Regions from separate parts of the Homo sapiens genome. Here regions 1, 2, 3, 4 and 5 are each linked to region 6. The links come from fine-mapping of genetic effects on gene expression. A gene starts in region 6. Each other region holds a variant in brackets. All regions are shown on one strand. Distances are from middle to middle. Region 1 has its middle 9.8 kb from the start of TSPAN3. Region 2 overlaps TSPAN3 (tetraspanin 3). Region 3 overlaps TSPAN3 (tetraspanin 3). Region 4 overlaps PSTPIP1 (proline-serine-threonine phosphatase interacting protein 1). Region 5 overlaps PSTPIP1 (proline-serine-threonine phosphatase interacting protein 1). Region 6 holds the start of PSTPIP1 (proline-serine-threonine phosphatase interacting protein 1).

Region 1 (4,686 bases), 85 kb after region 6:
GGGAGGCTGAGGGAGGAGAATGGCGTGAACCCGGGAGGCGGAGCTTGCAGTGAGCCGAGATCAGGCCACTGCAGTCCAGCCTGGGCGACAGAGCTAGACTCCGTCTCAAAAAAAAAAAAAAAAAAAAAAAAGAATAATACCGATTTCACAGAGTGCATTTAATCCGAGAGGATTACACGATAAAACAAACACAAAGTACTCAGCTCTACTGCTCAGCAGCACATGACACGGACGGCAGCCAGGTCACTGAGTTTGAGAAGCCTTAGAAGTCCTTTGCGTCACAATTTGCCACTTCCTACTTTTTTTTTTTTTTTTTGAGACGGAGTCTTGCTCTGTCACCCAGGCTGGAGTGCAGTGGCACCATCTTAGCTCACTGCGACCTCTGCCTCCCGGGTTCAAGCGATTCTCCTGCCTCAGCCTCCCAAGTAGCTGGGACTACAGGCGTGGGCCACCATGCCCTGCTAATTTTTTGTATTTTTAGTGGAGACGGGGTTTCACCGTGTTAGCCAGGATGGTCTCGATCTCCTGACCTCGGCCTCCCAAAGTGCTGGGATTACAGGCATGAGCCACCTCGCCCGGCCCCTACTTTTTTTAATTAAAATTCTTACTGAATTAAAACATACACTCAGAAAAGTACACAAACCATAAATGCATGGCTTCACTGTTACAAAGCGAGAGCAGTTGTGAAACCACCACCCAGATGAAGAAATAGAGGGTGGCCAGCACCCCAGAAACCTTCTCTCCTGGGCCCTTGCCGTTGTTACTCCCCAGCAAGAACCACCACTATCCTGATTCCTAACACCAGATCAGTTTTATCTGCTTTTGAACTTTTTATGAATAAAATTTTACATATAAATGAATCACAAAGAGTCATGATCTTCTGTGTTTAGCATCTTTCACTCCACATCATATTTACGGGATTCATGTATGTTGTTGCATGAAGCAGAAGTGTATTCATTTCTTGTGAATATTCATATTCAATTGTATAATTATAGCACAATGAATTTGTTTATTCTATAGTTGAGGGACATTTGGATTATTTGCAATGTTTGTTTGTTTGTTTTTTGAGACAGAGTTTCGCTCTTGTTGCCCAGGCTGGAGTGCAATGGTGCGATCTCAGTTCACCGCCACCTCCATCTCCTGGGTTCAAGTGATCCTCCTGCCTCAGCCTCCTGAGTAGCTGGGATTATAGTCATGTGCCACCACACCCAGCTAATTTTGTATTTTTAGTAGAGACAGGGGTTTCACCATGTTGGCCAGGCTGGTGTCGAACTCCCGACCTCAGGTGATCCACTCCGCCTCGGTCTCCCAAAGTGCTGGGATTACAGGCGTGAGCCACCATGCCCAGCCAATTGTTTGCAGTTTTCAGGCTATTTAGAGTAGCGCTGCTATGAATATTCTTGAGTCCTCCAATCCATGAATGTGATATATCCCTCTCACCCTTTATTTAGGTCTTCTTTAATTTCTGTCAGTGATGTAGTATGTAGTTTTATACATCTTTTATTAGATTTATTTCTAGATATGTCTTGCTTTGATGTTATTGTAAATGGTCTCATTTTTAGAATTTCACTTTCTAATTGTTTGTAGCTATTAGTAGAAATACTACTGTTTTTGGCTGGGCACGGTGGCTCACACCTGTAATCCCAGCATTTTGGGAGGCCGAGGTGGGTGGATCACCTGAGGTCAGGAGTTCAAGATGAGCCTGACCAACATGGTGAAACCCTGTCTCTACTGAAAATACAAAAATTAGCTGGGTGTGGTGGTGGGCGCCTGTAATCCCAACTACTCAGGAGGCTGAGGCAGGAGAATCTCTTGAATCCAGGAGGAGGAGGTTGCAGTGAGCTGAGATTGTGCCATTGCACTCCAGCCTGGGTGACAGAGCAAGACTCCGTCTCAAAAAAAAAAAAAAAAAAAAAAAGATTAAAAAAAAAGAATCTACTGTTTTTTGTATATAGAGAGGGTATCCAGCAACCTTGCTAAATTTTATTGATTTTAAGGGTTTGTATGTAGATTTAAAAAAATTTTTTTTTAGAGATGGAGTCTCACTATGTTGCCCAGGCTGGAGGACACTATTCACAGGCATGATTGTAGTGCACTGCAACCTTGAGCTCCTGGGCTCAAGCAATCCTCCTGCCTCAGCCTCCCAAGCATTGGGACTACAAGCACATGCCACTGTGCCAGGCTTTATCTGTAGATTAAAAAAAAAATCCTATGTACATAATCATGTTGCCTATGCATAATAGCAACTTTATTTCTTTTTTTCCAATACATAAGACGTAAGATTTTTATTTTTTTTCCTGCCCTATTGCACTGGTAAAATCCAAGCACAATGTTGAATGGAAGTAGCGATAGCATGTCTTCTTGATTTATTTCTAATATCAGAAGAAAACATTCAATATTTCACCACTCAATGTGATGTTTGCTATAGGGCTTTTACAATGCCTTTGTAAGATTATTTTTAAGAATTACTTGTTTGCTAAGAAGTTTTTTATTTTTAAACCATGAATGAGTGTTGAATTCTATCAAATACTTTTTCTGCATTCCAGCCTGGGCTACAGAGTGAGACTCGGTCAAAAAAAAAAAAATCC[C/T]TCCTTGCAGGGATATAGACACTTTCAACAGCATCTCAGTTGAACTGCCTACTAAAGCAAAAATTCTTCTGTAGAAAGACCACCTGACTTTAATGAATGGCCCTGTAACCTGAGGGGAGAAGGGAGAGAAAAGAAAGGCACTTTGGGATCCCTTAAAAGAGGAGGTGACCAGCCAAGCATGTTGGCTCATGCCTGTAATCCCAACACCTTGAGGCCAAGGTGGGCTGATCACTTGAGGTCAGGAGTTCGAGACCAGCCTGGCCAACATGGTGAAACCCTGTCTCTACTAAAAATACAAAAAAAAAAAAAAAAAATCTCTGGGCGTGGTGATGGGTGCCTGTAATCCTGGCTACTTGGGAGGCTGAGGCAGGAGAATCGCTTGAGGCAGGAGAACCTGGGACACGGAGGTTCCAGTGAGCTGAGATTGTGCCACTGTACTCCAGCCTGGGCAACAGAGCAAGACTCCATCTCGAAAAAGAAAAAGAAATGTGGAAGAAGGAGAAAAGAGTAGATAGGAAGTGTTATTCCAAGAGGGAGGCGCAGGGAGCCCTAATGGCCAAGGTGGGGCACAAATCCACCGAGCACTGGGGATCAAGTAGAGGCAGGGGAGTGAGGGCACTGCCCAGGGGCCAGGGAAGCCTGAAGTTTGGGTTGGAGACAGAGGCAGGGGGTAGAGATCCCTTCCCCACATCACCAATTGCCAGTGATTGTACCAGGGTCTAGGAATCCAGATAGGGCTACTTGAGATGCTGTGTGTCCACCAGAGCCCAGGGAGAGAGCTGAACTGTGCCTCCCCCATGGCCCCGGATGGGCCGAGGGAAAGGGAAGCTGCCTGTCCTGGGCCCACATTCCTGGGTACTGCCCGGATGGAGGCCATGGGTGAGGGAGGACCCTTGGGAGCAGGGAACAGAGGTGGGCCCAGCAGTACTGGGGACAGGGAGAGACGGGGGAGGTGCAAGGGAGGTTTTGACAATGTTTATGTTTTCACAGCTGCCAACTCAGGGTCGGGGAGCAATTGCTGGGTGAGAGAAAAATAAGCTGAGCAACTTGAGCTGGTTGAGAAACTCATTTCTGAACTTCACAGGAAGAGTTGGGGGAAGCTGAGGAGTTGCCTAGGCCAGCAGGCCTTGTAGAAGATAACAGTGATGGGCTTTTATCCCTGCCATGACCAAGCCCTAGGCCAGGCATCTCCTGACTCCTGCAGACACCAGTTGAAGCTTCCTCTACTCAGTTCTTCCCACCAGGAGACAGACCAGAAGCAGCTCTGGATACTGCTGCACTTTTGTCTTACGTGAAGTCTCTGGGGCTCATCTCACCCTTTGGGGGGTCAGCTGGCTTCCAGTGAATTGACCTTTTGGCTCAAGGGTTCCCAGAGAGACAGTCTCCTGCTTTGGGTTCCCACTTTGCTTATGTAGGGTTTATACAATGTAGGATCTTCTCTTTCTCCAGAGTTTCAACCCCAAGGCGGGGTAAGCCCCCTGGCAGCTGCTCTTCACCCTTGTCTGAGCACAGGCCCACACTCCTCTCACTCCTGTATGTCTCTCTGTCATCTCCCAGCTCCTGGAGAGCATCCACTCCCTCCCTCCCACATGTGACTTACAGTAGACTAGACTGCACACCTCCAAGCATTGCCATGGAGAGGAAAAGAAGACTTTTGGAATTTTGGAAATACTGAAATTCCCAACAAAATTTCTCTTCAGCCTATGGTATCTCTATTGTCAGGAGCCCAGGACATAATAATTTCAGTGGAATTTAAAATGCATCATTTCAGAGCCAGGCATGGTGGCTCACACCTCTAATTCCCAGCACTTTGGGAGGCCCAGGTGAAAGGATTGCTTGAGGGCAGAAGTTCAAGACCGTACCCTAGCTCTACAAAACAAAAATACATCATTTCATGATATGGAAAGGTCTCTAGAATTGCTAAGTGAAAAAAGGCAAGGCACAATGGATGCTTCTTTTTCAAGGAACACAAATAAATGCTCCCTTTGGGCAAGGAGGGTAGAGTAAGAAAATATATTGGGGCCGGGCATGGTGGCTCACATCTATAATCCCACCACTTTGGGAGGCTGAGGCAGGAGGATCACTTGAGGTTAGGAAT
Region 2 (5,128 bases), 64 kb after region 6:
AGCTCTGTGCTGACAGCCCAATGCCACTGGCTCATATACAAACAAGCAAATGCAGTGTCAGAGTAAGTGTTAAAACATTTGGTTATCACTTGGATAACAATGAGTTATCATTTGTAGAGTACTTTGAAACTTTCACAAGAAGTATTTCATCATCCTTTAAAATTTAACATATAAATCATCTTCAAACTAGAAACAGCTGCCACAGTGATACTGGAAATATCATTAACTTCTCTGAACCTGAAAACCCAGATCATTTAAGTTTATGAAATTCAGTAAGCTTGGGGATCATCAGTATATTTTTTTACACTAGGCCATTAGGATCACTGTCAGATGAGGAAGAAAAAGACTCCATTTATGTAAATTTGGGAAAGTAATTTGATTTTTTAAAATGTAACATGAACTTTTTAAAGTGAGAAGACAACTAGAATAATGAAGGCAATTTTTAAAAACATTGTTTTAAAACTCTCTTCCTCTGGCTTCCAAGAGGCCCCACTGCTGGTTTTCTTCCTACTTCCCCAGGTGCTCACTTTTTCATTCTCTTCACGGACTCTGAGATGTTAGTGATCTCCAGGATTCTGTCTTCGGCCTTATTCTTTAGTCATTCTCTGGGCTCTCCGTGGGCTACAGCAGCTATGGCTTCATTAGTCATTGTAGCTCACTACCTGAGCTATCATCTCAGAACTACACATTTCCATCTGCAAGTTCCAGAGACATGTCATCCTCAACCTGTCTCAAACCCTTTCTGCCTTCCTGCCCAGCCCATCTAATCTTCCCTTACATTCCTATCATAGCAAAAGGTACCAGACATCTAATTTTTCTGGTCAAACATCTGAGGATTAACTTTCCTTGCCCCACCTCTATAACCCATAAATCACAAAACTTCAACTTTACTTCCAAAACATTATTCGAATACCTCAACTCCTCTTCAACCCCACTGCAGTGCTTCTGTCTTAATTTGGGCCTTATCTTATCCCCCTAAATCTTACTTATTGACTCTCCCTGCATCTTAATACATTCTTTATACTACCAGGGTTATATTTATTAAAAATACAAACCAGATCAAGCCATAGCCTTACTTAAAATCAGGATGAGGCAAGTGAGTCCCCGATGAACCAAGCTATTCCTCCTTTTCAGCCCCAGATCTCATTACCCCTTGTGAACTATGAACAATATAGAACTGTTATACCCAAATGGACCACATATTCTCTCACTTCTTTGCCTCCGCTGTTCTCTCTAGAATGCTCTCTTCAAATGCCTGGGAACTCCTTGTCGCTCATTAAGATGAAGCTTAAATGTTACCTCTTCCTTTTGGAAGCCATTCTTGACCATTTCAGGCTGGATTAGCTGCCCTTGGTGGACACAAACATCTCCCAGTGCATGGTTCTAACAGAATATTTATCGAAACGGTTGCAATTATAGCTATACCTGTCTCAACACACCTTGAGAGCACGAATTGTACCCATCTGTCCTTCACCCTTGTATCATCTAGAACAGTACTTGGCAGACAGCAGGTATCAGTTAAAGTTTATTGAGTACACCTCATCTCACCCCTTTCCCTTGAAATCACCCTCCCAACTCTATCATAAGCTTTGGTTTGTATTTGCGTTGGTTTGTATTTGTATTTGGTTTGTATCTGGTTTCTCTTCAGTTCAATGCTTATAGCTTTTAGTTCACTATTCAATTATTTGGCAACTGAATCCAGCTTGCTGAATTCTGATGGCCATTACATCTGGAATATGTTAATATATCGTAAATATGTCATAAATATAAACACTGTACTTACAGCAAACTGCCTGTTCAAAGGTTCTCAGAGTTCACTGACATATTTGCTTTTGGGGCATGGTACTAGAGAATGAAGGTGAGCACAAAAGTGGGGGGGAGTGGAGAAGAGAAATAGTTTAATTTATCTTAATTTTATTTTATTTTATTTATTTTTTGAGACGGAGTCTCACTCAGTCGCCCAGGCTGGAGTGCAGTGGCGCAATCTCAGCTCACTGCAGGCTCCGTCTCCCAGGTTCACGCCATTCTCCTGCCTCAGCCTCCCGAGTAGCTGGGATTACAGGCGCCCGCCACTACACCTGGCTAATTTTTTGTATTTTTAGTGGAGACGGGGTTTCACCGTGTTAGCCAGGATGGTCTCGATGTCCTGACCTCGTGATCCGCCCGCCTCGGCCTCCCAAAGTGCTGGGATTACAGGCGTGAGCCATTGCGCCTGGCCAGACATAGCTTAATTTTAATTTGGGTGCATTTATTACAGAAGTATGTCAACTACTTAACACTCTTCCCAAATACCCCTTTTTATTGACTACTTGTGTGATATATATTCACACACATGTACACACACACATTTTGCTAAAGTAAATAGTATCAGTCCTCACGCTAAATTAGAAGCAATCTGAAGTGCAAATTAATCAAATTTTGTCATTTGTTTTTATTAGACGTTTCTCTATCCTTTAATGTTGTAG[G/C]TTTTTTTTACTCTAAAAGGCAGTATTTATTTCTTAAAAGGCTTGAGTTAAAATGAATTCCATTTCTGAGCTTTCGGTACACCTACTGAAACTTCACTAGCTTTAGCCTATGTAAATTCGAATGAAAATAAGAGAAAACTGGAGGCCATATGTACTTAACAATCAACCTGAAGCACAGTTCACTGAAGAACTACTTGCATTTTAGATATAAATTGATGAGTTTTCAATCTAAAGAGGTTCCTATGAGACTCACACTTAGTGCTGCTTGGAGGTGGGCCAAGGGAAATGTTTCCTCTGCTGCCACTGCCTCTCCCCCCTAAAAGAGGCACTCATCTGAAACTGAGACTACAAGAAAGCAGAAAAACCAGCAACAGAGACAACCAGATGCACAACAAATGCAATGGAGGGCTGTGGGGAGATGCCATTTGTAAAGCTGCCTCTTCTTTTCTGATAGACTCTACAACAGTTTTTTTTCCCAGGCTGCAGTCAACATCCAAGTCACACAACAAGATGAGAACATAACAAAGCTCTATTTGGCAACATATAGTTAAAGGAACTTACTAGTTGCACACACCAAAGAGAAAACTGCACGGATTGCTGATATGAAACTATACACATCAAATTGCTTATAAATAGACGATGTGTTTCCTAAATTGAAAACAGCTTCAAATTTTGCTTTTACTGAAATCTGTATATGGTGCTTATATCTTAAGCTGTATAATAAACAATTATGAAATGACACTGGTTACTTTGAAAATATAGAAGAGGTATCCCAGTAGCAGCTGAAGACCTAAAAACAGCCAAAAGTAATTGTTGTAATGATATCCAACCATCAATATGAAAAACACCCAAAAGAACATGGGAAACAGTATAGTAAATGGAAGAGAGGTTCTAAGAAATTCCTAACTAGTATGCATAGGGACTTTGTCATCCCTCAGATTTTTAATGCAGAAATTGTGGCTATCAGAAAAGCTATATAAAAGGTGAGCTTAAATTCTTCTTTTGAAGGGCCATGATGGGATTGAGATCTATCAAAGGATCTGAGCTTTGCCAATAAAGCAGCTGCAAAGGAGGGGGCTGGGGAGGAGGGAGGTGCAACAGAAAAGGAGATGAAATGTAGAACTTGGAAGCAGCTGAACTGCTTTAGTCACCACTGAGAAAATCTGAGCCTGTAAGGAGGATTTGTGCCAGGACAGTGTACTAAAAATATTCATCCTTTTTACAAAGAAGTGAAAGGAAATTTAGGCAAAAGGCTGAGGTCTGAAATTACAGAAAGAATAATTTTTAAAAAACCATTATTCTTTATCTTTTAATAAGCCTATACTCTAAATTAAGTCACAACATTTTAAAACTTTAGGAGAGCCAGTGCTTTTCCACTAAGCTGTCTAAAAAATAAAGCCATCTTGTTATAAAATTTTGCAAGTATATGAGTTCCAAAAGTATGATACTTCATTTTATGCTTTTACCCTTCCTCTACATATGCACAAATGTGAAATATCTTAAAGAGATTTCATTCTTATATGAGATTGCTTTTTCCATAGCTTAGAAACTAGTTTTTGGGGGGGTAATTTTCAAATATTCTATGAAAGAGACAAGTAGATAAAATGTTAAAATCTGGGCCAGGCGCAGTAGCTCACACCAGTAATCCCAGCACTTTGGGAGGCCAAGGCCGGCAGATCATCTGAGGTCATGAATTCGAGACCGGCCTGACCAACATGCAGAAACCCCGTCTCTACTAAAAATACAAAATTAGCCGGGCGTGGTGGCACATGCCTGTAATCCCAGCTACTCAGAAACGCTGAGGCAGGAGAATCGCTTGAACCTGGAAGGCAGAGGTTGCAGTGAGCCGAGATTGCGCCACTGCACTCCAGCCTGGGCAACAAGAGCAAAACTCAGTCTCAAAAAATTAAAAAAAAAAAAGTTAAAATCTGTAAAACTATTAAATTCCTTTTCATCAACCACGGTGTAACCTGCCATTGGAATGTGGCAATATTAAAAATGAAACAGATTTGCTACAAGTGGGGAGATAAAGTAGCTCTGTTGCCAAAAGTATACCTACATGGAGATTTAGAAATACAAAGGCGAAAGCATCCCACAGGACATTTTGGGCGAAGCTGAAGCAAAGAATAGAAGTGATTTTCTTGCAGTGGTATGTAGTAGCCATTGATGATGATTCCCATCTAGAACTGGCAAGAATCAAAACAATGTAAAGACAAGGCACCATCTGGACTTTATTCACCTAAAAGCACAGTGCCTGACAAATTCTTGCTTGCCTGTGTGAACTGCTCCCTTCGGAGTGATTTTTGCCAAAGAATCAATTAGTAAAGTAGAAGTGACTGGAGTGTTGAGAGAAAGGAAAAAAGTCAAGAAGTAAAAGACTGAGCAAAAAATGCTGTACTCTAGACTTTGTAAGAAAGCAGGTTTTAAAAGCAGAGGGAAAAAATAGGCAGGAATCCATCTTATGCATATATCTTTTTAACATTAAATCCAGAGTTTCCTGTACTGTCATATTATTTTTCATATACCTCTTTTCTCTCCTGGGAAGAATCGTTGGTAATTCCACACAGTGGATTTCTGAAAGCTTCCCCAAACTTCACCCTTATGCCATTACAAGTGTCTTAAAATCATCTTAAATCGTTTAGCATTCTACTTGCCATAATGTA
Region 3 (4,980 bases), 45 kb after region 6:
GAGTGGGTGTGGAGGAGAGGGCCCCTGGCCATTGACCACTCCTCAGTCCTGGGAGTGGCCAAGCCGGCCCACCTCACACCCTCCTGGGATCCCCACCCGGCTTCGGAGCCAGGCAGGCCCAGGACTGTAAGGGGCGGGATGGGGGACACAGTGGTCCTCCTCTGCTGGGACCACACTGATGAGCTGCTGCAGGGCACTGCTGTTCCCCATGGGGAGGGGGGAGAGAGAAAGGAGGGAGGGGGGAGAGAGAGAAAGGAGGGAGGGGGGGAGAGAGAGAGAGAGAAAGGAGGGGGAGAAAGGAGGGAGGGGGAGAGAGAGAGAAAGGAGGGAGGGGGAGAGAGAGAGAAAGGAGGGAGGGGGAGAGAGACAGAATGCCCATCTTTATACCCTGATCTTTACTTGAGCAAAAAATTGGGTTCAGTTAAGCAAGCATGAGACATGGACATTCTAATGACTCATGTGTGGCCCACACTGTACCTGATGATGGGGGTGTGGTGCTAAAAGGGGCCTCAAAGAGCTCACTCAGCCCAGGAGGACAGACAGCCACCCTCTAGGCCCTGAGATGTGAGGCAGTAAGTGGGGGGAGTGGTTCCAGGGGCTGGTGCAGGCCATCCAGCAGAGGGGAGGGTGGCTTGTCTGGGAAGTGGTGACTGGGCTGGAGAGCAACTCTGGAAGAACACAGGGAGCAGATGGACAGGACTTGGTAACTTACGGGATGGGAGATGGGTGGGAAGAGAGGGAAAGTGAGGAGGTGAGGAGTGACTTCGGAGCCCAGACTTGAAGATGGGCTCCTCCCCAGGTGGAGGAGCTGGAGGGGAGTGGTGCGGGAACAAAGCCTGGGCGAGGGCTGGGAGAGGCGGGACAGCCGCGTAGGCTTACCACTGGGTGGGGCCATGTGTGGGCAGGGAAGGGAAAGGAAAGAGTAAAAAGGTATCAATACTTTACTTATTCCTTGAAGATGCCTTGTCATCTTGATTGAACATTCCATTCCACTGCAAAGATTTTTTAAAAAACCTTTGGCCTAGATATTTATCATCATCTCTGACAGGTGCCGCAGTGTCTGTGGGCCCCAGAGCGTGATGGGTAACAAGTGCTAGATAACAGAGTCTGTTCTCCAGTCATTCGGGTGGCCAGAGAATAGAACTGAAAGCAACTCTTGGGTCACAATTTATGCCAGGGGGAGAATGCCCACAAATGAATCCAAGTCAGATTCACTGCTTCTGCAGCTTTCTCCGTTCTCCCATCACTGGGCACCACCTCAGCTGCTGGGAACCAACTGCATGGATGGATGGCCTTCCCAGCAGAGACGGTGCCAGATAAAGAGGGAGTTAGCGTGTAATTGGGTGTATAAATAACTGCAGCCTCTTCCTGACCGAGGGCCACTCAAAGACAGCAAGGAGCAGGAGGACAAGCATGGTCTCTGAATCACAACATCAGGGCCTGAATCCAGGCTCACGCTTTCTTGGGTGGTCTTAGGCAAGTCACAATTTCTCTGGGCCTGTTTCAGCATCAGTAAGATGGGTGCAATATGCCCCCATGCAAAATCTCCTAAGGTTCAAATTAAACAATGATTAGGTATTACTTACCAGCAAGGGATACCACTTTTAAGGAAAAGACCCACAACCTCTGAATCTTGGCTACACTCAACAGCAGCTTTGCGCTTGGCATAATCCCCCTCGCTCAGCACACCCTCTGGGACAGCTGTGGTTATGTCAGTGAATCCTTCGCAATGATGACAAAAAGCAGCAACTCACGTTTGGCCAAACTGGAAGCACGCGCCACTGGTGTCCAACACCTAATTCCAACCACTCTCACAGCCTTTCCTAGGCCAAGAAACCTCAGCATAAGGGTCACCTGCTTGCCTTGGTCTGACTACCTGGGTGTCTGCCTATTTCTCCATCCCGGCTTTTGAGCCAACACAAGCCCAGGACAAGGTCGCACCAGCAACTGGGCTCGCTGCCCTCAGCACCCTCACGGGATTATCAAACTGTGCTCAGTAGAGCCCTCTTAGGGGCCAGTGGGAGGAGAAAGGGGGCACCCACTCCACTTCGAGATCTACTTGGAGAGTTTACATATTGCACGTGCAGTGGTTCTCAACCCAGCTGCTCAACGGAGTCACCTGAGCAGATTTTCAAATGCTGATGGTTGGGTCCCACCTCAGACAAACTGAAACCAAATCCCTGCAAACTGAGCTTGCGCATAAATATTTGAAACATTCTCCTGGTGATTCTGATACGCAGCCGGAGCTGAGAAACCCCTGGCTAACAGGATCTTCAGCTAAACATTTTTAAAAGTTTGAAAAACAGTTATGGCACCATAGTGACTTATCTCAGGTGATAGTGCCCACTACCTGCCAGATGGTGGGATAACAAAGATCAGCAAGTAGGCCGGGCACGGTGGCTCACGCCTGTAGTCCCAGCACTTTGGGAGGCGGAGGCGGGCGGATCACGAGGTCAGGAGTTCGAGACTAGCCTGACCAACAGGGTAAAACCCCGTCTCTACTAAAAATACAAAAATTAGCCAGGCGTGGTGGTGCGCGCCTGTAATCCCAGCTATGTGGGAGGCTGAGGCAGAACTGCTTGAACCCAGGAGGCGGAGGTTGCAGTAAGCTAAGATCGTGCCACTGAACTCCAGCCTGGATGACAGGGCAAGACTCTGTCTCGGGGAAAAAAAAAAAAAGATCAGCAAGTCTCTTTTCTACCCTATAATTTCTACATCTGTCTTACTTTCTTCATTGGATAAACTCAGGGGAGCAGGATTTATGTATGACTCAACTTCCCCACAAATAGCAATGCAGCAGCACCATTCAGTAGATACGAGGTTTCTGCCACGTCACTGTGTTACACCCTCAGGAGACCTCACAGATCTCACAGGCACTGCAATAGAAAGCCACGTGCAACACACAAGTTATTTTCAAGAACTGCAAGGATGCACCCAAAAAGCAGGTGCTGTTACACACCAA[C/T]AACCACCAACTCGGAAATAAGTTAGGAAAACCATTGCATTCACAATAGCTACAGACATTAAGCTTCACAGAAAAGTTTCCTAAGTAAACTCTGTTAAGATCCGAAAGAAAAAAACCCAATAACCAATCAAACCGGGCAGAGGACAGAAGCAAAATTCAGAAGATACAAATGGCTGAAACACCTTTAAAAGCATCCTGGCCCTAGCTAACAGTCAAATAAACACATATTTTCATCTCTCAGAATGGAAGAAAAGATGAAGGCTGATCACACCAAAAGTGTCAACAAGGGTGTAAAGAAATGCACATTTCATTCACTGCTGGTGGGAATAGAAATTGATATAAGCTTTCTGGAGAGCAACCAGATGTATCCATGAAAATGTTTAAACGTGACTTTTTTTTTTTTTTTTTTTGAGACAGAGTCTTGCTCTGTCACCCAGGCTGGAGTGCAGTGGCATAATCTCGGCTCACTGCAACCTCTGCCTCCCGGTTCAAGCGATTCTCCTGCCTCAGCCTCCCAAGTAGCTGGGATTACAGGTGCATGCCACCAGGCCCTGCTAATTTTTTGTATTTTTAATAGAGATGGGTTTCACCATGTTGGCCAGGCTGGTTTTGAACTCCTGATCTCAAGTGACCCACCTGTCTCGACCTCCCAAAGTGCTATGATTACAGGCATGAGCCACTGCACCCAGCCAAACATGACTTTTCCATCCAGAGTAAATCCAACTAACAAGAATCCACCCTTGGAGTTCATGTAAAAATACATGACACAGGGTGATGAAAGTGCTTTGAAACTAGATACAGGCAGTGGTTCTATAGCATGGTGAATGTACTCAAGGCAACTTCTTTACTTTAAAATCGTTAATTTTATGCCATGTGAATTGCATCTCAATAAAAATTGTTTTCATTTTAAAAATTGTAAATGACTGCAGTGTGTGTATAGAGATGATCACTGTGGCGAGTAGTGGAGGCACTGGAGGCAGCCTGCAGGCCTGCCCTTTATACACCTTGGTTAATCATGGTACTAATGTACCCACACAGCTAACACAATGGAATGACAAATCCTACAGTTAGACATGGAAGGAGCATCAGACTATGTTGTGAAGACAGAAAGAGGATCTTGTAGGATAAAATTCCTATTAGCAAAAAGCAAAAACCAAAACCCAATACCAAGTCTGTTTCTGTGTATGTAGTCTGCAAAGACACATGCCATTGCTGAACTGCTGAACTTGCTTCCCTGTGGGTACTTCTTTACAGATGTCTGTATTGTTCACATTTTTTAAAGCACCAATTACTTTTGTTTAAAAAAATACACTTAAAAAAGGCAGTAAGACAAGCTCTGTCAATCATCTATAGGACAAGAAGCAAAGACACCCCAGCTGCAATAAGCACACCTAGTGCCAGGGACCAGGGCTCCTGGGACAAACACTGATCCATGGCTGGTGCCCAGGGGCCTGGAACATCTTGTTAGATCAGAAATTAGGGGAGTGCTTCCAAAAATGCTGGGATATAGGAGGCACTCGAAGGGGCTCTCGCTGGCCAAGTCGGGAACTATCTGAGGAACTCTTCCCCCATCCCCAAAGGTCAATGATGAAGTCGACTTTTGAAAAAATGGGAATCCATAGTGGATATATGAAAATAAATGAAGGAGAAGGGAGGGATGACTGGCAAATGAGGAAGGAGTGCTGGGCTGCAGAAACGTCGCTTGGCAGTCATCATAAAGATTGAATCAGGCCAGAATCAGCAACATTTGCTGAACCTGGTCGGGGAATGGGGAAGAGTCTCATGAGGAACAGGGTATGTACATGGAGACAGTGTGTCTCCAGAGATTTCTTATTAGTTGAAAAGAAAAAAACAGTAACCATGCTATGGAGAAAGTGGACACACCTCGACTAGGTGTGCCAGGTACTCATTTATTGCCTCTTAACTCCAAATTTCCCTGACCTTGCCCTTCCTTGTCACACTGAAGAGGGGGCTCTGAAAACTCCTTTACCCTTTGCCAGCCTGACCCACAGTGGGCT
Region 4 (5,182 bases), 24 kb after region 6:
TACCAGGCTTTACCTGAGTCATGTGTGTGCGACCCTGGAGTGTGCGTGACCTTGGAGACTGTAATGTGTGTGGTCAGGGGAGCTGGGACTTCTTCCTCCAGTCTCTGAGGCTTTAGGGGTCCTCAGGGATAGAAAGGAAGACAGACTAGGTGCGGAATGTCAGGCCTGCCTTGGTGCAGTTGGTGACAAAAATCCTGTCTCCCCAGCACCTCTCAAGCTCCCCTGGAGTAAGCCTGCGTGCAGTGCCTGGGAGAGCTCAGGGGGTTGTGGCGGGGATCCTGGCCCCGGGACCCACTCCCCAAGCCTGGGAATGTCCTGGGAGACCTCTGTTCCTTCATAGTCCTTAAAGACTACCTCCCTCCCCCAACTTCTCACACCCAGCTTCCCACACCAGCAGCTCAGACACACACCTGGAATCCACTGCACAGTGAGAAAGGAGAATTGGGTTGGCCAGGAACAACAGCCAGGGCAAGCAGGGCAAGTGCCAGGCAGCAGAGGGTAGCTGTCCCTGGAGAGTTCTCTGAGGCTCCCCACCCCACCCCAGTCCAGAGGTGAATGTAGGGTGTGCTTGCGCATGCTCTGACCTGGACTGAAGTCACCCTCCATGCCCACCTCCCTGGATCTCCGTGAGGGGGGGTTTCCTGAGCCCACAGAGAGCCCAGCGCAGCATCTGGCACATGGCTGGTGCCCAAGAAACCGCAATTGCTGTGATGGTCATGGAGACTGCACAGTGCTGAGGTGAAGGGCAGGGACCCCAGCCAGACAGCCTGGGGTTCAAGGCCAGGCCAGCCACTTTCCAGCTGGGCCGCTCTGGATACGATCACATGTCACCCTCCTACACCTCGGTTTCCCCACTTAGCTGAGATAGGGATATTGGAAGGGTGGCACTGTGAGTGAGTGAATTTCAGGCCTGGCTGTCATCAGGGGGACTTAAGGGTGGCTCTTCCCATCTGCTATCTCATGCTGATGTGTGTCCTGTCCTGTGAGCTCTCCAGATGCCAGGCCCGGCACCCCCGGCCCTGTCAGCTGGGTGGGGCTCACTTATGTACCTGTCACCTCTGCAGATGTGAGGGGACCTCCTGTGTGCCTGTGTAAAGCCAGGTCTGGAGTCCCAAGAGCTTGCCCTGAGCAGGGGAGATGGAGGCAGGAGGGAGGCTGTTCCCAGAGATGGTGGGAGGGTCCCCACAGGGCTGTGCTCAGTGTCGCCTGGTCGTGGCCCTCATGTGTCCTTCTGTCCTGTGTCACAGTGCAGGGACTTCACAGCCCACACGGGCTACGAGGTGCTGCTGCAGCGGCTTCTGGATGGCAGGAAGATGTGCAAAGACATGGAGGAGCTACTGAGGCAGAGGTGAGCTGCTGGGCAGGCCATGGGGAGCGCAGGCAGGAAGCAGGTGGCTTCCGCTCGGCTCCTGGGACAGTGGACGAGGCCCCCATCCCAGCCAAACTCTGTCAGAACACGCCCTGCTTTAAAAAACTCTTCTGTGTTCCCTCAAACCTGGGCCTCCCCCAGAGGTGGCAAGTCACTGATGATCTTTCAAATGCCCTTTTTTTTGCAGGGCCCAGGCGGAGGAGCGGTACGGGAAGGAGCTGGTGCAGATCGCACGGAAGGCAGGTGGCCAGACGGAGATCAAGTAAGATCTCCCGGGCCCTGGGGCTCACTCCTCTCCTCTGCTGGCAGTTTCTGGGCCTTTAGATGAGGTTTAGGTCTTCCTGGCATGGGGGAGGCTGGGCAGAACCAGGGTAGGTCTGGATTGCTCCTTGGTGCCTGGTTATTGGGCATTCAGGGTGAGGCCAGGTTCTGTGAGGGAGGAAGCCCGAGGGTCTGAGTTCTGGAAAGGGTCTGGGCAGGGGAGACAGGAGGCCATCCATCCTCAGTCATTTGCAGCGCAGTCTGCACCAGCCTGGGTGGCCTCCACTGAAGTCCTGAGGGGCAGGTGACAGGCGTCTCCACTGGTGGCTCAAGTCCCCTGCAGCACTGGCTCAGCATGGGCTTCAAGGATGGAGATGTAGCCAGAGACAGGGGTCCAGGAGGGGACACACCTGGGTTCCGGTGTCAGCTCCTCACCCCCCAGCTGTCTGACCATGGGCTGGCTGCTGACACACTCTGTGGCTCCGTTTCCTCATCAGTGATGGGAAAGTAACGCAGCCCTCCTCAAAGGAAGAAGTGGGCCCATGGGCTTAGCTGAGGCCTGGTTAGAGGGCAGGCCGTCAGGGAAGTGGCTCTGATGAAGCGGGAGTCTCCAGCCCCACAGGTCTCTGCACGCAGACTGCTGGGGTGGGAGGCCAGGTGAGGAGATGAAGGTGAGTTCAGGACACAGCCACCCTAACAGTGGAGTGGAGGGGCTGCTCTGGGAAGGCCCAGACTGTCCCCCTGGGTGAGGACAGAGCCAGGCCAAGGGGCAGACAGACCACCGGCCTCCAACTTCTTGAAAGGGCTCTGCAGAGTCCTCCTGCCGAGGGGCCCTGAGCCTGACCCTGCAGCTGCTGTGGAACCCCTTCCCTTCCTGCCTTCTCCCCCGAGAGAGGAACTGAATGTGCCATACTCTGAAGGTCCCCCAAAGACACCAGGCACCCTGGCGGCTCCTGCTTCCAACCAGGAGCCAGAGATCACAGGAAGGCTTAGATGTGGCATGAGCCGTGTGTGAGGCCAGAAAGTTGCACACAGCCCTGGGAGGACGGAGGGCTCTGAGGAGCCCTTGGAGCTCTGGTCCCGGCTCGGCCAATCTGAGCTGTGGGACTGTGGGCCAGTCGCCTAGCCTCTCCAAGTTTGTTTCTCACCTCCCACTCCAGCGAGCTGCC[G/A]TGCAAATCAACAAGAACATGGTCTGAGGGCCTCCCAAGGGAAGGGCTGAGGGCCGGGTGCAGGCTGGGCACAGAGGAGGGCTCAGGACATGGTGAGGAGTGAATGGACGTATGCAGGGAGGTGTTTTCTGCAGGAAGCAGTGCCCAGAGCTCTCAGCCAGGGGAGGAGCAGCTGTGGGGGCCTGGCAGCATGACCAGGGGAGCCCCTCCTGGTCTCCTGGCCTCCCAGCCTCCAGGCCAGCTGGAAGAGAACTTTCCCAGAAAGAGAGGGTACCTCATGGGGAGAACTCAGAGACTCAGGAGAGGTGGAGAGGGTGGCCCCAGCAGGGCACAATGGGAGCCAGGCTGGAGTGGGTCTGTGTGATGCAGGCTCAGGGGATTGTGAGTCACAGGGGATTTACAGCAGGGAAAGAGAAGCTACCCACAGAAAATACAATGGGGGTGGGGAGCAGGGTGGGCCTCAGGAAGCAGGAGGTACGCAACATCTTGCTCCATTTGTAGAACTAGGAAGGGGCCAGGTGGAGGCTCTGGGCGGCCCTGATTGCGCCATGGTTATTCAAGGCCAGGTGGGGCAGGGTCTGCCCTGACTTATCCTTTGTGTGGCCCTGGATGGTCCTCCCTGTCTCTGAGTCCAGGGTCTGTACCTATGGAAGGGGATGGTCACTTGGAGAGGTGTTCTGGGCAGTCACAAGGACAAGCAGAGAGTGCCAAGCCACAGGGGTTCACTGCACACAGTGGGGCTCCATAGTGTTGCTCTTGACCCATGTGGCATGAAGTACTGTTGATGAGGCCATGCAGCTGTTCCTTTCGGTGTAGGCCAAGCATCCATCCTCCATCCATTTAGTCACCATTTAATTGAGGACCTACTATGTGCCATGCCCTGGATGGGTCAGGAGGATTCACTAATTTAAAATAAAATAAAGGGCTTTGCCATTCCTTAGCCAGAGTCCAGCACAGTGAGGGTGACTTCCTTCTCCTTCCTAGTCCTTTGCATTAGGGCCCATTTATGCGCCACCTCCTCCAGGAAGCCCTCCCAGACACCTTGCCTTGCCTTACTGTCAGAGTCTTGGCTTAGACCCAATTACCCCTCCCCATGCCAACCTGAAGGGCTTTTGGTGGGGAAGTGTGAGCAGTGGCCGTGGACCTGTTTCCTCATCTTAGACTCCTGTGGGGGGGGGGGGTGTGTGTGTTGGCCCTCAGGAAAGGTGACCCGGCTCTTCAACATCGGGGCTGGTGGCCCACCCTCCAGGGCCCATCCCTGAGTAGGGGAAGCCCCTGGCCTCCCTGAGGCCCACAGCTGCCCCCCAGGTCTATGGGATGCTCATTCCCTGCCCCTTGCAGAACGGGCAGGGGACTGGGGGATGGGAAGGCTAGGAACAGGGTGCAGAACGAGGACAAAAGCCAGGTGGTTAAGTGACCCTATAAATAGCCTAGTGAGCCCTGAGGGCAGAACTGCTGCCTGAAGGTACTGCATTTCTGCAGTCCCCTGACCTCAAACCAGCCGGGAGCCACCCTCAGGCCTGGAGGCTCGGGCCACTGAAATTAACAGGAGGTTACATCTTAAGTGATTTTTGACATGTACCTCCTTCACATGTTAACTCAGCAAACATCCGTGGGGCAGTGGCAATGGAGGATGGACAAGTAAGACCCAGTCCCCAAACTCCAGGGATCCCCACCAGCGCTTTCAGTGCATTTTAAAGACAGCATTAGGGCCAGGCGCCGTGCCTCACGCCTATAATCCCATCACTTTGGGAGGCTGACCTGAGGTCAGGAGTTCGAGACCAGCCTGGCCAACATGGTGAAACCCCGTCTCTATCAACAATATAAAAATTAGTTGGGCATGGTGACGCGAGCCTGCAGTCCCAGCTACTCAGGAGGCTGAAGCAGGAGAATCACTTGAACCTGGGAGACGGAGGTTGCAGTGAGCCCAGATTGCACCACTGCACTCCAGCCTGGGCTGCAGAGCGAGACTCCATCTTAAAAAAAAAGATAGTGTTAGTATTTGCAGGGGGCTTACCAACATTGCTGACATCACATGTCCAGCCCTGCAGAGACTTTGCCTGACTCTCCTTTCCAGCCTCTGGGCCTTTGCTCCTGCTGTTGCCCTGTTGCTCCCCTGCCCAGTCCCACCCATCCCTCAAGGCCTGCCTGAAATGTCACCTCCCTCAGAAAGCTGTCACCTCCACTCCCCTATTGCTCATCCTGCGTCAGGTAAGGTGCTGGGGGTGCTGCATGCCCCCAGAAGCTGCACAGGGCAGGGGTTTGGGAAACAAAGGAAAACCAAGGCAAGGCCAGCTTCCTGTAGCCCCTCTGTGGTTACCAGTGGGCAGGTACAGCCCCCAAGGGGTGCAAGTTTGAATCCTCACGTCCCTGCCTCACCCCC
Region 5 (4,380 bases), 37 kb after region 6:
AGGGAGGCTGGGGCAGGGACCCCCTGGGCATCTCCACCTCCCTCCCTGCAGCCTCAGGGCTGGCCCGGAGTCGGGATGGGGACCCCAGGGCACTCTCTCCTTTGGACTGGGCTTCCAGCAGAGAGGGCTGGCCTGGTCAGCTCCGGCTGAGCTGTGAATGGGGCCCAGCCTGGCCGGGCCCTGCAGCCGCCTCCTCACTGCTCACCTCCCTCCCACTGCCCCCAGGCCTTTCAGCTGCAAGAGTTTGACCGGCTGACCATTCTCCGCAACGCCCTGTGGGTGCACAGCAACCAGCTCTCCATGCAGTGTGTCAAGGATGATGAGGTGGGGGCTGAGGGCCTTGGTGTGGGGTAAGGTAGGGCAGCCTCTAGGCAGCAAAGCACCCAGGTCCATCTGAGCCGGTCAACAAGCACCTGGTCCTCTGTGATCCAAGCCTGGCCCCAGGGGTCTCAGGCCTCAGCAGCTCAGCCTTTGCCCCCAGAACCCCAAGACAGGAGCTCAGTACCACACAGGGCCATGGCTTCTCTGCCTGGAAGATGATGACTCTGTGGTTCCCCTGACTTCCTCCTTATGCCTCAGAGCCACAGAGCACCTGCCCCCTCTGCCGGGGATGGGAGGGGAGGTGGACACAGCTGTCAGAGGTTGGCAGAAGCTGGAGGACCGTGGCTGCTCTGCTCTAGGCCTGGTGCTTGCAGGAGCCGAGGCGCAGTCCTTCCTCTGCTCCCCACATCTCCAGGGTGTCCTGGTTCCCCTTACTGAGCCCAACCTGCTGGGTGGGTCCTCCCCAGCAGAGAGGGCCCCCAGCCAGGGTCCCTGAGCTCTGTGGATGGATGCAGCCCAGCACACGGCTCTCCCGGGCAGCCCTGGCCCCCTTGCCTGCTGTGTTTCCTGCCTGACGCTCCTGTCCGGGGCTGTGGGGGTTGATTTTCTTGTTGTTTTTGCCCAAGTGACTCGAGCCCCCTGCTGCCTCCTCGCCTCCTTGAGGTAGAAGGGCGAGCTCTGGACCCACTCTCCTAGCCCCAAGGCCTGGCTGTGCTGCATTCTCGCTGTGACCTTGGGCAAGTCACTCTCCTCTGAGTTTCCTCATCTATCCAATGGGAAAAGTGGGGTCTACCTTAGAGGACAGGTGTGAGTTAAGTCCCTTGCACAGGGCCTTGCACACAGAAGGTGTTCAGGAAACAGGAAGCTGTCAGCCAGGGCCGTGACCCCTCAGGATCAAAGACCCCGAGCCGCGCACAATGGCCTGTGAGGAGGCCGGTGGGTGGGGGCCGCTGGTCAGAGTTCAGGCCCACAGAGGGGCAGAGTGGGCATCGGGCTGCGGCCTCTGCTCTTTCCTGCCCCAGCTCTACGAGGAAGTGCGGCTGACGCTGGAAGGCTGCAGCATAGACGCCGACATCGACAGTTTCATCCAGGCCAAGAGCACGGGCACAGAGCCCCCCGGTGAGGTCCGGCTTGCGGACAGCGCAGCCTCTAGGTGCATTGAGCCCCTGGGAAGGCCCGGCCCTGAGCCTCAAGTGCCAGGACCGGGCTGGGGTAGCTCACAGCTCCCTTCAGGGCAGAGAAGCCCTAGCAGGGGTTGTGGGGAGTTGGGTCCCAGGCCTGCTGCCTCCTCTCAGGCAAAGCTAAGGGCATGATGGCACTCAGAGGAAGAGGTGGGGATGGGGATTGAGGTGAGGAGCTCCCACGGCCCCCACTCCCCGCCTGTTTGGTTCCACTGGATCACGGGTCCAGAATATTAGGTCTTGATGGTACCTACGGTGGGGTCTCTCATGGGAGCAAGACAGGCACCTCCTCAGGCACCAGGATGGGCCAGGGCCAGATTGGGAATGTAGGGCCCCAGCTGAGTCTGGCAGGGCCAGAATGGGGTGTTGGGGGCCGCCCTGGGGCTCACGGCTTGCTGTCTGCAGCTCCGGTGCCCTACCAGAACTATTACGATCGGGAGGTCACCCCGCTGACCAGCAGCCCTGGCATACAGCCGTCCTGCGGCATGATAAAGAGGTGAGGCCCCGACAGACGGAGGGAGGGCCTAAGGCTGGGCCAGGAAGTGGGTCGAGCCCCTCCTCTGCACCTGGCCCTTCCTCGTTCACTGAGCACCTACTATGTGTCTGTATCTGGTGCCCAGTTTAGGTGCTGGGCACTCTGTGGAGACAAGATAGGCTCAGTTCAGCCTATGGAACCCTCAGCCCAAGGGACCCAGACACTAGAATAATCACACCCCAATTATTCACTAGGGGAGGTGCTCCGAGCTCTGGGGAGGCCCCTATGCTGGCTTCCTTGTCCCTGGGGCCTCATGTGAGCCTGGTGCCCTGTCAGGCTGCAGTGGCAACGCTG[T/G]CTGGCTGGAGCAGGACTGGGGCATCTGGAGAATTCTCCAGGCTTTTCCAGGGCTCCTTCCCCGGCCTGGCTGCAGTCAAGTGCCAAGGTCCTAGTGCTGGGCCTCAATGTGTGACCTGGGCAAGTCATTCACACTCTCTAAGGCCAGGGCCCTGAGTGTTGGGGTCAGATTCAGAATCTAAGGACTCTCCTGGTTCAGGCCTTGAGTGACGAAGGTGACAGCCCATTGGGAGCACTATAGCCAGCTTAGGGAGCCCTCGTAGCCAGGCCTTTGAGGGAGGCCATGTGCCCTGTGAGCATCCACAAGGGTCTGTGGGTTTCACATGGTGCCTGTGCCCCCACCGCCATGCCACCACTCTTCAGCCACCCTTCAACCAAGAAGGCCCTGCCTCTGGGAGGTAGTGGACTGTGGGGAGAGGCTGATGCAGTTCCCGGCCCTTCCCAAGGACCAGCTCATTCCAGGGCCTCAGGAGCCCCTGGAACTTCCTACTCCTGGGAGGCAGAGGCTCGTGGGAACCACCCGTGCTTAGAGAGGGCACACACACACCCTCTTTGAGAATCTTGTGCAAGCAGTGACCCCAGGAGGCAGCACACCCGCAGCCTCACATGCTACAAAAGCTTGTGAGACAGGCTTCCCTGTGCCTGGTGAGGACCTGGATCCCAGCAAAGGTGGTCATTTAAGCAACTGGACAAAAGAGCTCACCTGAAGCAGTATCAGGAAGGGGCAGAAAGGAGTGGCCCCAGAGAGGATTAGAGAGAGAGAGAGAGATGTCCTGCAGGGCCGAGGGAGGCCTGGCTGCTGGAGGGGGCTGGTCAGGCCTCTGGATGGGGCATCTAGAAGCCAGGCAGGACTGGGAAGAGGCGGGGGTCAGTGACTGGGAGTCAGAAGTGTAGACAGTCTGGGGAAAAGAGGTGTGGGGGCACGCAGCACAATGGCTCAGCAAGCCCTGCACCCCTTTCCCCCTGCCCTGGCCGCTTCCTCCACCTGTCCCCAGCCCCTGCTGGCTTGCACCCTGTCCTTTGCTGCCTGGGGAGCTGGCACGTGTGTCTGCCCGCCTGTGTTGGTGTCAGGCCCTCCCATGTGCTGGGTCCACGCATGTCCACCCTGCGCATGTGTGTGCACTCCTGGGGCCTTGGCCCTCGGCGCCTCATGTGGGAAAGGCCCCCCACATGCCACCTTGAATTGCAGGGCTGCCCCCCACAGGCCCCTGAGTCATGGCTCAGCCCCTCACCTGCATTCAAGATCCCTCAGGGTCTGGTCCAGTCTCTATTTCAGTCCTGTCCCCCACACACCCAAATTGGTCCACTCCACTCCACAAACCCCACCTGTGCCATGCCTCCTCCCCTGCACCTGAGCCCTCCCTCTCCTGGTCACCTGCAGTGCCTCGCTCCCCCTTCTCTCCTAGTAAAGCTTCACTCATCTTTGAAGACTCAGCCCCACCCCACTAAGAAGCCCTCTTGCCTTGGAGGCAGTGTCAGCCTCTACTTGTTGAGCCCTCACTACTGCCCACTTCAGGGGGTGCCCCCAGCATCTGCCGCATCTGCCTCTTCTGTTTTATTTTCCTTTATTCAGTAAACCTTCATGACCCCAGCTCAGTCCAGGCCTAAGCCTGGTGCAGGGGCAGGGGTAAAGTAGCCCAGCGCTGTCCCGGAACTCCTGTGAACAGGGTGGCTGAGCTGGCCTGATCACCGTGGGCCCACAGGGAGGAGGGCTGGCTCGGCCCAGGCAGTGGAGGCCTCAGCAGGGCACGTGAGCCAGGCTTTGTGTGGCAGTGCACCCCCCACCCCTACCCATGGGGGAAGCTGCTAGGGCAAGCTAGAGCAGGGGCCTGGAGGGTGAGGACTGGGCATCTTCCCACGAGGCCTCAGTGCGGAGGTCCTAGAACCCCCAAAGGGCCATGGGAGTCTTCCAATGAAGCTACAGCTTCGGGGGTTCTAGGATCCTCCCAAGGGCCCTGCAGGGAGCAGGTGCTGAGATGGCCTGCAGAGGGCGCCAGTGGAGGGCGTAGCTGGGGAAGGAGGAGCCACCAGGACTACTTTCTGGGGAGC
Region 6 (5,157 bases):
CTCCAGCCCGTCACCAGCATGGCCCTCCATCCGGGGCTGCCCTGGCTGGACAGGTACAGTTGGGAAAGGAAGGCCTCATGTGTGGGAGCCTTGAGGTTGGCTTTGAGGGTGGGAGGATTTGCCCAGGTAAGGAAGATCAAGGAAGGCTTGCCAGAAGGGAGGCTGGGAACAGAGCAGGTGGGAGTGGGAAAGGTGCCTCCAGGGAGAGGGAAGAGGCCTGGCTGGAGCAGAAGTCTCTGGGAGGTGATGGGAAGGACACCTAGAGAGGCAGGGCAGGGAGCCCAGCTGTAAAAATTTCTGCCAATAAGCAGGCAGGAGCCTTCTGTTAACAGAGGGTCTCTAGTCTGCTCCAGACCTAGAGGCATCATCCCATCTGATGGATGGAGAAACTGAGCTCAGGGAGGCTGAGCCAGTGCTATCAGAGGTGGTGGTGCCATTGGGAGGTGAGGTGCAGCCTGGCTCACTCTATGGCCTACAAAGTTCAAGGGGATTTTTACACTATTAATTGTCTTCAGCTGCAAGTAACAAAAAACCTGACTGGGGCGCCTTACAGATTAAAGATTAGCTCAAATCCAAGGTTTCTGGAGGTGAGGGCCTTCTGGGGGCAGTCCCATTGCTCTGCAATCCTCCCCAAAGTGTTTCCTCTTGGGTGGCTATTTCAGAGCCTGGGTGTGCCCCCTCTCTCTAAACCCTGGGCATGCATAATGGGCACTTGGGAGCTCAACTATTTCATCTGCAGCAGCTCTCATCTTATCACCCCGTCAGCTGTAAGGCAGACATCAGTGAGGGTGGTGATTTGCGGACAATCCCTGACTCACCCCATTTTGCCAGCCTGCCCTGGGCTCAGGACTTCCTGCTGCATCTTCTGCTGAGCCGGCAGGGCGTGGCGTCTCAGGGCTGGGGCTGGGGCTCTAGTCCAGGGCTCTTCCTAAGGTGGTACCACACAGTGCCCCCAGCACCTGCCCACCAAACTGGAAATTCCAGAAATATTCTCGACACCGTCTACTTTCCAAAGACTGGGTGTGGCAGATGAGGAAGCTGAGGCTCAGCGAGTTGGGGGGTCTATTAAGGTCCCTCAGCCCCTGAAAGGTGGGGTCAAAATTAAACAAAAACTGGGCCTCAGACTGGGTTTCCAAACACCCCACTCTGTGCCTTGATAATCCTGTTTCTCTCTCCATCCATTCCCATTCACTGAGCCGGAAGCCTCCATCTTCAGAAGGGGGTTCTCTGCCCCAAACAGCGTCTAATCTGGAGACTTGCGGTGGTGGCGGTGGTGGTGGTGGGGGCAGTGCCGGGGCCTCAGGCTGTTCTCCCTCATCTTGCTGCCTGCTCACCTTGCCTCTGTGTGCTCACAGCCCCCCAGAGCACAGCTGTGTCTGCTCCCAGACTATGGGCTCCTTGAGGGCAGGACCTGGTTTGGGTCCCAGAGCAGCCAGGGTTTGATGAATGACAGATGCCCTAGACCTGGGTAAGCCCCTCCAGAATGACTTGCTAGTGCGGGGTGGGGAGTCTGGCATCTCTGGGCCCAGCCTGGAAGGGTGCTGGACTGGCTGGCGGGTGACACACCTGGGGTTCCTGGGCCCCTCCTGGCCACACTGTCAGTGGGCCTCAAGCTCCCTTAGCATATGGCCTCTGGAATAAAGTGAGCCCGCACCTCGGGAGGGGGCAAGCAGAGGCAGGAGCAGGATGGCAGGTGGCAGGCGGGGCTGCACAGGGGAGCACAGCAACTCCACTTCCTGTGGGCGAGGGCCCTGTGCCTGCCCCGGGGGAGGTTGCACAAACCTTCCTGCGCAGGCCTCGGGCTGCCTGCCTGCCTGCCTGCCTGGCCCGGCCCGAGCTCCAGCCTGCCTCTTCCACTGGCCACTGCCTCCCACCCAGGGCTGGCATCCCTGCTCCCTGCCCTGGGTCCCAGACTGTGTCCTCCATCACCGCAGGGTCGGTGAGGGGCTGGGCTGGACACCAGGGCCCGCCCTCCCATCACTGAGCTCCACTCCTTCCTCATTTTGCTGCTGATTCTAGCCCCAAACAAAACAGGTTGAGCTTTTTCCTCCCCTCAGAAGCTCCTCTCTGGCTCGTGGCTGCCTTCTGAGTGTTGCAGACGGCGCCGGCCGGGAAGGGGGGCCTGGGCCAGCCCTGCCAGGACTGGGACGCTGCTGCTGGCGCCTGGCCCTCCATCAGGCCAGCCTGTGGCAGGAGAGTGAGCTTTGCCGCGGCAGACGCCTGAGGATGATGCCCCAGCTGCAGTTCAAAGATGCCTTTTGGGTGAGTGAGGATGGTTGGGGGCACTGAACAAGTGGAGGGGGCAGAGCTAGGCTGAAATCTCCATGCAGGTGATGGGATGCGGCTCCGAGAGGGGAGCTTTCTCATAAAATAGTGGTTGATTCTTGGTCTTAATTGTCATGGAGGTGGCCCAGGCCCCCACCCCTTCTGGACTGGAACGCAAGTGGACTCCGTGAATGAGCGTCCTCCTCTCTGCTGCCCCGTGTGTTTTCTCCTCTGGGAGACCTCTCCCCACAGCAGGAGCTCCTCAGAAGAGGGTAACACATGGGTGGGGGCTTGAGGAGGATGTGTGGGGCAGCAAAGGAGGGGTCACAGATTTAGAGACCAGACAAACTTGAGTTCAGGTCTTGGCTCTGTTACAGGCTGGGCAAGTCATTTCTGTCTCCAAGCCTCAGTCTCTCCATCTATATAATGGTGATAAAATAGAAATCAACACACCAACTAAAGCATTGGATCAGCAAGGGGATCCAAGGCACTAAAGCCCCCAGCACCTTGCCTCACTCCAAATGGTAATTCTGTTCCCCTCACCCAGCCCCTTGTCCCTTGCAGACCTTAGGGGTCCTTCAAGGAGGCAGCCAGGTGGGCAATGGCTTGCTTACTTTCTTAAATTCAACACGGGCTTAAATCAAGTCATTTCCCCCATGAAATAAGGGCGCCCAGCCAGTGGTAGAGGTAAAGTGGCTTGGCCCGGGCCACGTAGCCTGCAGCCCAGCTTGGACCCCTGGTCATCTCAGCACTTTTCCAGCTGTCCTTCAACTACCCCTCTGCCCCTCAGCTCTGGCTGTGCCCAGGGCTCTGGGGAAAAACTGAGACCTCTCTGGTTGGAGCTGGGGAATGTGGCTGTCCCGGGGTGCTGCCTCCAACCCCGAAGAGGACGCTCTGGCCCTCGGCTCAGCCGGCTGAGCCCCAGCCAACAGCCCTGCCCTCCCCGGGCCTTTTCCTGGGGCTGCAGCCAGGAGGATGAGAGCTATGGAGCCAGGCCTTCCTTCCCTTCCGGCCGGCTCCACTTGGGGCCTGTGGCCAGCGTGTGAGTGTTCTGCTTCCTCTGCTCTGACTGTACAGTAGGCAAAGGACCCCACGTGGGGAGGGCACCTTGTGCCTTTCTGGGCCTCAGTTTCCCCATCTCTACAAAGACAGGGTGGGCCCAGCCCAGAGAAGCCAATGGAGGCAGAGCTGCCTCAGCCCATCCGGAGGACCAGGCACCAGGATGCTCAGGGCCCAGGCTGGCAGCTGGAGCCCTGGGGGATGGGGGATGTGAGTCACCACCTAGCTGCCCTGCCTTGGTGTGCAAAGTTGGGGGAAGGGGTAGGGCCTGGAAACCCAGGCCACTCTGTAGCCCAGGGCAGGCCAGGACCCCTTGACTATTTTATCACTGAGACCTCTGTCCAGTCCTAGAGCCCCTGGGCCTGCCTTCCCTAGGGCAGAGCTGGGCAAGGAGCAGCCTCCATGGCAGGATCTGGGCACAGGTAGGGGTGGCGTATAAGGGAGCAGGGTATGGCAGCCGCAGCAGAAGCAAGCAGCCAGCCCCTGTGGAGCTTCCTGAGCGGCATCCTGCCCACACTCTGTGCTCGTCGCACCTCTGGGCTTCCTGGCCTCCAAGTGCCTTGTCTCCTCTGTGTCTGGCTCCCTGAGCCTGGGGCGGGCATATAGTTTCCCTAGGGAAGGCCAGAGCAGGAAGGGGAGAGAAGTAGCCAGTGGGAACCTCTCACACTGAGTCTGGGCCGATGCCCCGAAAGGTCACTGTAGGCATCACCTGCCCCAGGGCTCTGGATTCTAATACCTCTTCCTGATGCTCAGCCCATCCCAGTGCATAACAACTAACATTTGCTGAGCACGAAAGATGTGCCAGGCGCTGTTCTCAAGATGTATGCATATTCACTCATTCAATCCTTCAAACACATGCTACTGTTATCTCTCTTATTCAGATGAGGAAATTGAGGCACGGAGATATTAAGAGACTTGCGCAAGGTCACACTGCTGGGATTAAACCCCTGGCAGGCTGGCTTTAGCACTTGTGTTGTTGCAGGATCCCTCTGTCTATCTGACATATCACTGGATCTTTTGGCTTCGGGGTAAGATAAGAGGTAACCCCTCTTATCTCCCAGAGGGGTAAGAAAATCAGACAAGGTGGCTAGAACAATATTCTGAAGCTTCATTTGTAGACAAATCTGTAAAACAGAAAAGGCACACTACTCTGGCCACAGGTGTTATATTAGGAACAGCCCAGCCAGCTTGGCCCATGTCTGGGCCTTCCCCCACCCCAGCCCAAGGCACTGTCATTAAACCCTTCAGCCTGCCAGCACACTGTTTAGAAATGACTGGTTTTTAGGCGGGGTGCAGTGGTTCACGCCTGTAATCCCAGCACTCTGGGAGGCCAAGGTGGATGGATCACTTGAGGTCAGGAGTTCAAGACCAGCCTGGCCAACATGGTGAAACCCTGTCTCTACTAAAAATACAAAAATTAGCCAGGCGTGATGGCATGCTCCTGTAATCCCAGCTACTTGGGAGGCTGAGGCAGGAGAACAGCTTGAACCCAAGAGGCAGAGGTTGCAGTGAGCTGAGATTGTGCCACTGTACTCTAGCCTGGGTGACAGAGCTGACAGAGTGGAGGGACCCTACTTTGGCTAAACTGGAAAGATCATGTTTGATATCACAGCCCCTCAGTTATTGGGCAACCTCACCCATACAGAACACGGGGCGGAGGAGGGGAGCCAGCCCTGCTGTTTCTGGCTTTAGCTCACAGTAAGGGAGGAAGCAAAAGTGGTTTCTCAGGAGCCAAAGATGATTTCCCTAAGAGCTTTCCTTAAAGCTCATATACTACACTCCTAGGAGATGTCCCCTAGCTTTTACTCAGGTCCTATGAACTCTAATTTCACC

Evidence for each region. PIP is the estimated chance that this variant, and not a neighbour inherited with it, causes the effect. A credible set is the group of variants that fine-mapping cannot tell apart.
Region 1: its variant is the best candidate, but not a certain one, in a credible set for the expression of PSTPIP1 in whole blood (TOPMed, PIP 0.78).
Region 2: its variant is the best candidate, but not a certain one, in a credible set for the expression of PSTPIP1 in whole blood (INTERVAL, PIP 0.50).
Region 3: its variant is the best candidate, but not a certain one, in a credible set for the expression of PSTPIP1 in whole blood (TOPMed, PIP 0.66).
Region 4: its variant is the best candidate, but not a certain one, in a credible set for the expression of PSTPIP1 in lymphoblastoid cells (GEUVADIS, PIP 0.55).
Region 5: its variant is the best candidate, but not a certain one, in a credible set for the expression of PSTPIP1 in whole blood (TOPMed, PIP 0.50).

What each region holds. Positions count from the first base shown.
Region 1 is chr15:77,078,587-77,083,272 of GRCh38, forward strand. No RefSeq gene overlaps it. Among named protein-coding and RNA genes, the nearest start is that of TSPAN3, 9.8 kb to the left of the region's middle. The variant C/T (reference allele first, on the strand shown) is at 2,589.
Region 2 is chr15:77,057,164-77,062,291 of GRCh38, forward strand. All of the region lies in intron 1 of TSPAN3 (tetraspanin 3), which reads right to left. Among named protein-coding and RNA genes, the nearest start is that of TSPAN3, 11 kb to the right of the region's middle. The variant G/C (reference allele first, on the strand shown) is at 2,466.
Region 3 is chr15:77,038,032-77,043,011 of GRCh38, forward strand. It overlaps TSPAN3 (tetraspanin 3), which reads right to left. Exons shown (of 7, transcript NM_005724.6): 7 at 3,373-4,980. Among named protein-coding and RNA genes, the nearest start is that of TSPAN3, 31 kb to the right of the region's middle. The variant C/T (reference allele first, on the strand shown) is at 2,963.
Region 4 is chr15:77,016,901-77,022,082 of GRCh38, forward strand. PSTPIP1 (proline-serine-threonine phosphatase interacting protein 1) reads left to right here. Exons shown (of 15, transcript NM_003978.5): 2 at 1,248-1,348; 3 at 1,557-1,631. Among named protein-coding and RNA genes, the nearest start is that of PSTPIP1, 24 kb to the left of the region's middle. RefSeq lists enhancers at 2,199-2,771, 2,961-3,090. The variant G/A (reference allele first, on the strand shown) is at 2,800.
Region 5 is chr15:77,030,955-77,035,334 of GRCh38, forward strand. It overlaps PSTPIP1 (proline-serine-threonine phosphatase interacting protein 1), which reads left to right. Exons shown (of 15, transcript NM_003978.5): 10 at 226-324; 11 at 1,344-1,440; 12 at 1,908-1,998. Among named protein-coding and RNA genes, the nearest start is that of TSPAN3, 38 kb to the right of the region's middle. RefSeq lists enhancers at 2,263-2,900, 3,538-4,175, 4,176-4,380. The variant T/G (reference allele first, on the strand shown) is at 2,332.
Region 6 is chr15:76,993,348-76,998,504 of GRCh38, forward strand. PSTPIP1 (proline-serine-threonine phosphatase interacting protein 1) reads left to right here and starts at 1,779. Exons shown (of 15, transcript NM_003978.5): 1 at 1,779-2,262. The coding sequence starts at 2,227. RefSeq lists an enhancer at 1,484-1,533 and a silencer at 1,774-1,963.